3 separate regions of the Homo sapiens genome follow, and regions 1 and 2 are each linked to region 3. The links come from fine-mapping of genetic effects on gene expression. A gene starts in region 3. Each other region holds a variant in brackets. All regions are shown on one strand. Distances are between the middles of the regions. Region 1 has its middle 37 kb from the start of IL6R. Region 2 has its middle 25 kb from the start of S100A6. Region 3 holds the start of S100A3 (S100 calcium binding protein A3).

Region 1 (2,759 bases), 820 kb after region 3:
TCTGGGGTGGGAGAGGGACATGGGAATGGCTACTTAGTAGGTATGAAGTTTCTACTTGGGGTAATGAAAGAGCCCTGGGACTTAGATAATGGTAATGGTTGAGGCCAGGCGCGGTGGCTCATGCCTGTAATCCCAGCACTTTGGGAGGCTGAGGCGGGCGAATCGTGAGGTCAGGAGTTCGAGACCAGCCTGGCCAATATGGTGAAACCCTGTCTCCGTCTCTACCAAAAATACAATTCTCCTGCCTCAGACTCCTGAGTAGGCGGAGGCAGGGTTGCAGTGAGCCGAGATTGCGCCATTGCACTCCAGCCTGGGAAACAACCGTAAAACTCCATCTCAAAAAAAAAAAACAGAAAGAAATTGAAAAATTAGCTGTGCATGGTGATGCATGCTTGTAGTCCCAGCTACTCAGGACGCTATTAAGCAAGAGGATCACTTGAACCCAGGAGTTCCAGGCTGCTGTGTGTTCACACCACTGCACTCCAGCCTGGGCGACAGACAGATCCTATGCCAAAAAAACCCCTTTTTTCTTTCTTTTCTTTTCTTTTTTTTTTTTTGAGACAAAGTATCGCTCTATTGCCCAGGCTGGGATACAGTGGCTCAATCTCAGCTCACTGCAACCTCCGCTTCCTGGGTTCAAGTGATTCTCCTGACTCAGCCTCTCGAATAGCTGGGATTACAGGCGCGTACCACCATGCCCTGCTAATTTTTTGTAATTTTAGTAAATACGGGGTTTCACCATGCTGGCCAGGCTGGTCTCAAACTCCTGACCTCGTGATCCGCCCACCTTGGCCTCCCAAAGGCCTGCTGGGATTACAGGTGTAAGCCACCGTGCCTGGCCAAAAAACCATTTTGTTTAGAGACAGAGTCTTGCTATGTTGCCCAGGCTGAGTGCAGTGGCTATTCACAGGCATGATCATACCATACCACACAGCCTGAAACTACTGGGCTCAAGCGATCCTCCCTCCTCAAACTCCTGAGTAGCTGGGACTACAGGCGCACCACTGCTCTTGGTTTTGTTTCCACCTTTGGCTAGTGTGAATAGGGCTGCTATAAACATTTTTGTGTGGCCGGGTGCGGTGGCTCACGCCTATAATCCCAGCACTTTGGGAGGCCAAGGCAGGTGGATCACCTGAGGTCTGGAGTTCGAGACCAGCCTGGCCAACATGGTGAAACCCCATTTCTACTAAAAGTACAAAACTTAGCTGGGCGTGGTGGTGGGTGCCTGTAATCCCAGCTACTTGGGAGGCTGAGGCAGGAGAATCTCTTGAACCCAGGGGGCGGAGATTGCAGCGAGCTGAGATCACGCCATTGTACTCTAGCCTGGGCAACAAGTGCAAAATTCTGTCTCAAAAAAAAAATTTTTTTTGTGTGCAAGTTTTGACTTGAACACCTGTTATCAATTATTTTGGTTATATACTAGGAGTAAAATTGCTGGTCATATGGCAATCCTATGTTTAACTTATTGAGAAACTGCCAAATTGTTTTCCACAGCAGCTGTACCATTTCATATTCATTTTCCATTCCCC[G/A]GCTTACTTTCCTTTTTAAAATAATTATTGCCGGGCGTGGTGGTTCACACCCATAATCCTAGCACTTTTGGAGGCCGAGGTGGGTGGATCACCTGAGGCCAGGAATTAGAGACCAGCCTGACCAATGTGGCGAAATCACATCTCTATTAAAAATACAAAAATTGGGCCAGGCGCGGTGGCTCACACCTGTAATCCCAACACTTTGGGAGACTGAGGCGGGCGGATCACCTGAGGTCGGGAGTTTGGGACCAGTCTGACCAACATGGAGAAACCCCATCTCTACTAAAAAATACAAAAAAATAAGTCAGCTGTGGTGGTGCATGTATGTAATCCAGGCTACTCGGGAGGCTGAGGCAGGAGAATCACTTGAACCCAGGAGACAGAGGTTGCAGAGAGCCGAGATCGCCCACTGCACTCCAGCTTGGGCAACAAGAGTGAAACTCCGTCTCAAAACAAAAACAAAAACAAAAATTAGCCGGGCATGATGGCGGGTGCCTATAATCCCAGCTAATAGGGAGGCTGAGGAATGAGAATCACTTGAACTCGGGAGACAGAGGTTGCAGTGAGCTGAGATCATGCCACTGCACTCCAGCCTGGGCAATAGAGCGAGACTCCGTCTCAAAATAAATAAAATAATATAATTATTATGGGCTGGGTATGGTAGCTCACACTTGTAATCCCAGCACTTTGGGAGGCCAAGGCTGGTGGATCACTTGAAGTCAGGGTTTGAGACCAGCCTGGCTAACATGGTGAAATCCTGTCTCTACTAAAAATACAAAAATTAGCCGGGCGTGGTGGCAAACGCCTGTAGTCCCAGCTACTTGAGAGGTTGAAGCAGGAGAATCATTTGAACGCAGGAGGTAGAAGTTGCAGTGAGCGGAGATCTGGGCAACACAGTGAGATTCTGTCTCTAAATAAATAAATAAATAAATAAATAATTAGCCAGGCGTTGTGGTGCCTGCTTGTGGTCCCAGTTACTCAGAAGGCTGAGGTGGGAGGATCGCTTGAACCTGGGAGGTCAAGATTACAGTGAACTATGACTTTGCCCCTGAACTCCAGCTTGAGTGACAGAAAGATACTGTCTCAAAAAATATATATATATATTTTTTAATTTTAGCTCACTATGGTCTCAAACTCCTAGGCTCAAGTAATCATCCTGCCTCAGCCTCCCGAGTAGCTGGGATTACAGGCGTGGATTACTCCACGCCCTGCTAATTTTTGTATTTTTTG
Region 2 (2,759 bases), 38 kb before region 3:
GATACAAAGAGACAGAATAAATTGCATGAACAGATCATGGAGGTGCAAAAGGGCATGGCAAGATCAGGAGACCAGGCAAGTGTCTGGCATGTGTGCCATGCTCCCTCTTTCTGCCAGCAGGGGGTGTCCTTAGCAAACCGCAGGGAGGCCGGTGCATTTGGCGCCATAGAAATGGGGCTAGTGGATGTTTTATCCCCACTTTGGTGCTTGGCAAACACCACTCACCACAATAATCAGTATTTCTACACAAAGGAAGCATATCCCCCTATTAATACAACTTCAACATCCTCTTTGTAAAATATTAATACTGGCTTTATTATGCTATGGTGCATTTTGTTTGTTTCCACTTTAATCTTTCAAACATCATAATCTGTTATTCCTCTGCCTGAGCCATCAGGCCAAATAACACCTTGCACTCACACGTTGTTATAACCCCAAACTTCTCTACACATAACTGAAGCAAAGGTTTCTTTTGTCTCTAAAAATATCTCTGCCCAAGGCACAGATCCAGGCCTAGGGAAGGGGGCAAATTGATGAAAAAATAAACAGAAGAAAAGACTGAGGCAAAATTGAGGAGGGCCTTGGGTGCAAGCCTGAGGAGTTAGATCTTGTTCTATGGGCATTATAGGAAGTCAATATAGGATTTTAAGCTACAGATCAGTTTTATTAGCAAAAAAGGCAAATGTTTTCTTTTTGTTGTTTTTGTTGTTTGGTTGATTGGTGCTATTTGAGAGTGAGTCTCACTCTGTCGCCCAGGCTGGAGTGCAATGGTGCAATCTTGGCTCACTGCAACCTCCACCTCCCAGGTTCAAGCAATTCTCCCACCTCAGCCTCCAGAGTAGCTGGGATTACCGGCATGCATCACTACACCCGGCTAATTTTTGTATTTTTAGAAGAGACAGGGTTTTGCCATGTTGGCCAGGCTGGTCTCGAACTCCCGACCTCAAGTGATCCACCCTCTTCAGCCTCCCAAAGTGCTGGGATTACACATGTGAACCACCGCACCCAGCCCAAAGAGCCAAATGTAACAGCAATGTGGAAGACAAATTGGGAATGAGAAGTCTAGCTCAGTCTTTTCCTTACAGGGCAGGGCTGCCCATCACTGGGACAATGTGACTTGAGATTTGACCCTAAAGAAGAGCAGAGGGGTCTGGCTTCTGCTCCAGCCAGCTGTTGTTCAAACATCTGGCCATCAGTTTCTCCCTTGGCAATCCCAGCACTCTGCTAGACCCCTCAGGCCTCTCCGCAGGCAAGACCACGAC[G/A]ATTGGAGACTGGGTGGTCAACAGGGGGAGCCAAAGGACCGGTAGTGGCAGCCCAAGGCTGGCCCGGTCTCCTGCCACGTGGAGGAAAAGGTAGATGCCAGTGTCCAGGGCCCGGGGCAGCCTGACCCTGTGGGCTCCCTCATTCCCAGGCCCAAGCCCTGACCTCAAATGGGAGAACCAAAAAAAAAGGTGGGGGGAAAGTCTCATTTTTATTCCCAAATTTGAGGCAGGAGGCTGGGGAGATTGACACCCACACTCCCAGATTTTTTTTTTTAAGGTTCTCAGTTTCTTGGAAAGTTTTTTTGTCTGTTTGTTGTTGTTTGAGGCAGAGTCTAGCTTTGTATTTTTTTAATGGTGCTTTTTGATTAACACAAATTTTTCATTTAAATGCAGTAAAGCGTTTTCTGGGCTATGTTCTTTTTCTTCTTGCTTAAGGAAACCTTCACCACCCCCAAGGTCATAACGATCTTTTTCTATATTTTCTTCCAAACATTTTAAAGTTGTTTCTTGTTTGTTTTGTTTGTTTTGTCTTGTTTTGTTTTGTTTTTTAGAAACAGGGTATCACTCTGTCACCCAGGCTGGAGTGCAGTCTCATGAACATGGCTCACTGCAACCTCGACCTCTGGGACTCAAGTCATCCTCTCACCTCAGCCTCCTGAGTTGCTGGGACCACAGAAGCAACCTCACCAGGCTAATTTTTTTTTTATTTTTTGTAGAGACAAAGTCTCACTATATTGCCCAAGCTGGTCTCAAACTCCTGGGCCCAAGTGATCCTCCCGCCTCAGCCTCCCAAAGTACTAGGATTCCAGGTGTGAGCCACAGTGCCTGGCCTCTGAGAGAGTTGTTACTCACCAAATTCAACAGTTTCCTGATCATTCATTGCATATGGTAGATTTGTATTTTCCTAAACTAACACTGTGGCTCTGAGCTGCACACAAAGGGCACCAGTCAAAACATAAAACATAGTCCAGCGCTGAGCTCCAGCCACAGAACAATCTGTAATAACTCACACTCTTAATAACTTCACAGCTAAAAGCGGTATTTATTAACGTATTTGCACAAGCAATCTGTAACTAGGGGGAGGAAAGGATACCCAGGATGTCAAGAAGTAAGGGACATTAGCAAAAGTTGAACATCAGCAGGAAGGATCTGTGTGTTGTCATCAAAATGGTAATTATGCCTTCATAGGAAAATTTGGTAGGAAAATAGTAATGCCTGTTTTTGGGGGAAAGGGAGGTGTGCACTAAAAGGAGTTTGGACCCATTCCTGGGAGTGGTTTCCTCAGGACAGACTATTAGTAAGTCTCTTCCCTCACCTAAGAGACTAAGAGCAGGCACATGGGGCTTTTTGCTTGGCTGGAGATTTGAAATTTTTGTGTTTTATTTGATGTTTTGCAGTGTTTTTCTAATTTTTTTCAAAATATATTAAATACACAGTTCCAGTGTTTTTTAATGCAATAAATTCTGAAAACATTTACATATAAAACAGGTATTCACC
Region 3 (2,759 bases):
GGAGGGCAGAACAGCCTCACACGCCACCTCCCTCCTTCCTCTCCCAAGTGGACCCACCCCACCCCAAACTACACCCTTCTGAGGGCCGACTTCAACCTCCCTGCTCTGATAATGCACTCGTTGCAATCCCCTCCCAAATCTGTCCTCTCAGATTATTAATCGAGCACCTACTATTTGCTACTGAGTGCCTACCAAGTGTTAGGCATTCTTCATGGTGCTCTCACTCAGTCCTCTCAACAGCTCTGCAAGGCAGCAGGGATGATTGTCATCCCATTTTACAGATGAGGAAGCTGAGGTTTCTGCTGTGTCAGTTCTCCCCCTCCCACTCCCTCCTCACAATCCAGCCCCCTCCCTTGCTGTCCTGTGCTCATGCTTGTTGTCCCCAGGTCTCTCTTTGCAGAGTCTAGGCAGTGCCTCCCCCCGGAGGAGGAGGGGACGGACACTCTGACTGCTCACCGGGGTCCAGGTGGCCAGCTCCTTCTGCAGCAGCTCCTTGAGCTCCGCCTGGCAGAGCTTGTATTTGTCCCCACAGCGCCCTGCGTATTCCTGGAAGGTGCACACGATGGCAGCTACCGCCTGCTCCAGAGGCCTGGCCATCCTCACTGTCACAGAACAAGGGTGTGGCTCACAGCAGAGTTCCAGGCCAGCCCCCCAGCTCACCTCTGCCCTCTGTGTTTCTCAGAGACTGTTCCCAGACCCATCTTAACCTCCATCAGGCTTCAGGCCCCGCAGTCTCCCCCTCCTCTGAGTAGCCCTCCCAGACCACACCAGCCCCTCCTAATTTATCCCCCTGCTGTCCTGTTGTTATTTCCCCATGTAGAGGTCTCATTGCCCCAACATCGCTGTAAACTCCTCAGAGAGACAGCATCCTACCCCACCACCCACACACCCCACCGTGGGGCTCCTTAAGCACTCTCAGATTATCTGCCACCTCTTCTTATCCCCAACACCCAGGGATGGCTCGGTCCCAGTCTGCCCCAGCCCATGAGATGCCCTAGAAGCCTCCCTCCCTGCAGGAACTTGCACAAGGAGAGCCTGGCCCTGTGCTTCTCTGCCCTCAGCCCTTGGAGAAGCTAGGCCTTAGCAGGGAGGGGCAGGTCTGAGAGGCGCCCCCACAGCCTCACCACCACTGCCCTCACCCTGCCTCCTGCCCTGAACTCGAGGAAGCTGCACCCAGAAGAAAAACTTGTGGGATCCTCTCTGCCTGTCGCCAGCTGTGCAACCTTGGTGAGCCATTTGTCTCTCTGGGTCTCAGGGGCGGGGCCTGATCTGTAAGTTGGGGTTCATCTCACCTCGCTGGCCCAGTCAGGAACCTGAACCAGATGGTCTCTTGAGAGTTGACCAGTTCGGGTGTTTACCAATCTGAGACTGGCCTCCCCTGAGGTTACCCTCCCGACCCCTGGGGGTTTTGAGCAGGGAGGTTCTGTATAGGGATACTCTGTTCTATTGGAGGGGAAGCCCTTCCTGGAATTGCTCACCTCCCCCCACTTCCACTGTCCCCTTCCACCGCCCTTCTGGGATGATGCCTCCAGCCTGGGAAAACCCGAAGGCAGCCAGGAAGGCAAGAGTTTTTTCCATGCTAGCCCAGTGACTCACTCCTGATTCCCCCACGGGACAAGAGTCCTGCAGCACAGGGCGGCCAGGGCCAAGACTCTCCCTGAAGATTTGCCCACTGCTGGGCCCCCTGCTGGGAGCAAATGGCTGGCATGGTTGTGGCTGGCAGGAAAGTAGGGGAAGGGGAGTGGGGAGTGCCAAGCACTGCCAGGATTTAATTCATTGTAAACACCCCAGGATTAGAGCAAGGTGTCCAGGTTCCCAGGAGAGGAAAGGGCCATGATCCTCAGAAATGAGGAGACTCAGAGGTGAAGCAAGGAGGCAAGGAGCAGGTGAGGGGCCTGATCAAGGGGAAGACCAGAGCCTTGAGCCCAGTGCTCCCACCCCAAGGCAGACCTTAGCTCTACACACCTCCCTGCCCAAACTTCCCCAACAGCCCCTCACTGTGTAAGGAAACCTCTGCGTCCACTATATCTGACTTCCCTCCCCGTGTCAGGCCCGCCTGTGGTCATCTCTCTGCTTCCAATGCCAGACCCTGGGTCAGGAGTCAGGCTGGCTACTGGGGGTCCCCAAACTGCCCTGACACTCAACCCAGGGCAGGACCCAAGCAGCTGGCACTCACCACTGGTGCTGGCGTTTCAGCTGTAGGAGCTTAGAGACAGGGCGTCACTATTTGTAGCCTCCCAAGAAAGGAAGGAAGCAATTATGGGGGACACAAGTAGGTCAACACTGAGGATGCCCTCAGGGATCCCTCAGCAGACCCATTACAGGCCCCACCTGCCCACCTATCCACGCACACATCAAAGGCCAGTCTGGGCTCAGACACCACTCCCCTTTCATTCCCCATCTGCCCTCCCCCAGAGTTGGGAACAGGGGACAGTCTCCTGCCAAGTCCTTCCAGCTCAGTTGGAGGAGACAGTCTGGCTTATCCATCACATCACAGCCCCATCTCTTCACTCTGCAGAGGCCCCCAGAATACCAAGTGGGGACACACTTCTGCCTCGCTCAGGTTGCACCCCTACAAATCTCTATTCCGGGTAGAACTTGGAGAGCACGTGGCTAAGCCTCCCCTTTACAGACGAGAAGTCTGAACTTGCCTGACCAGATCCCAGCTTTTGGCTGTGAACTGCTTGCTTCCCAGGGGGGAAATCATCAGGTGGGATGTCTTTGAGGCACAGGAAGGAGGTGTGTTCCTCCCAGGGGCA

What was found.
Region 1: its variant is fine-mapped to the expression of S100A3 in esophagus mucosa (GTEx, PIP 0.98).
Region 2: its variant is fine-mapped to the expression of S100A3 in whole blood (TOPMed, PIP above 0.99).

What each region holds. Positions count from the first base shown.
Region 1 is chr1:154,366,924-154,369,682 of GRCh38, forward strand. No RefSeq gene overlaps it. Among named protein-coding and RNA genes, the nearest start is that of IL6R, 37 kb to the right of the region's middle. The variant G/A (reference allele first, on the strand shown) is at 1,530.
Region 2 is chr1:153,509,810-153,512,568 of GRCh38, forward strand. No RefSeq gene overlaps it. Among named protein-coding and RNA genes, the nearest start is that of S100A6, 25 kb to the right of the region's middle. RefSeq lists an enhancer at 1-34. The variant G/A (reference allele first, on the strand shown) is at 1,263.
Region 3 is chr1:153,547,889-153,550,647 of GRCh38, forward strand. It overlaps S100A3 (S100 calcium binding protein A3), which reads right to left and starts at 1,370. Exons shown (of 3, transcript NM_002960.2): 1 at 1,293-1,370; 2 at 457-602. The coding sequence starts at 597. LOC101928034 (a long non-coding RNA gene) reads left to right here. Exons shown (of 3, transcript NR_125947.1): 2 at 533-1,227. RefSeq lists enhancers at 897-1,458, 2,022-2,583 and a silencer at 1,425-1,719.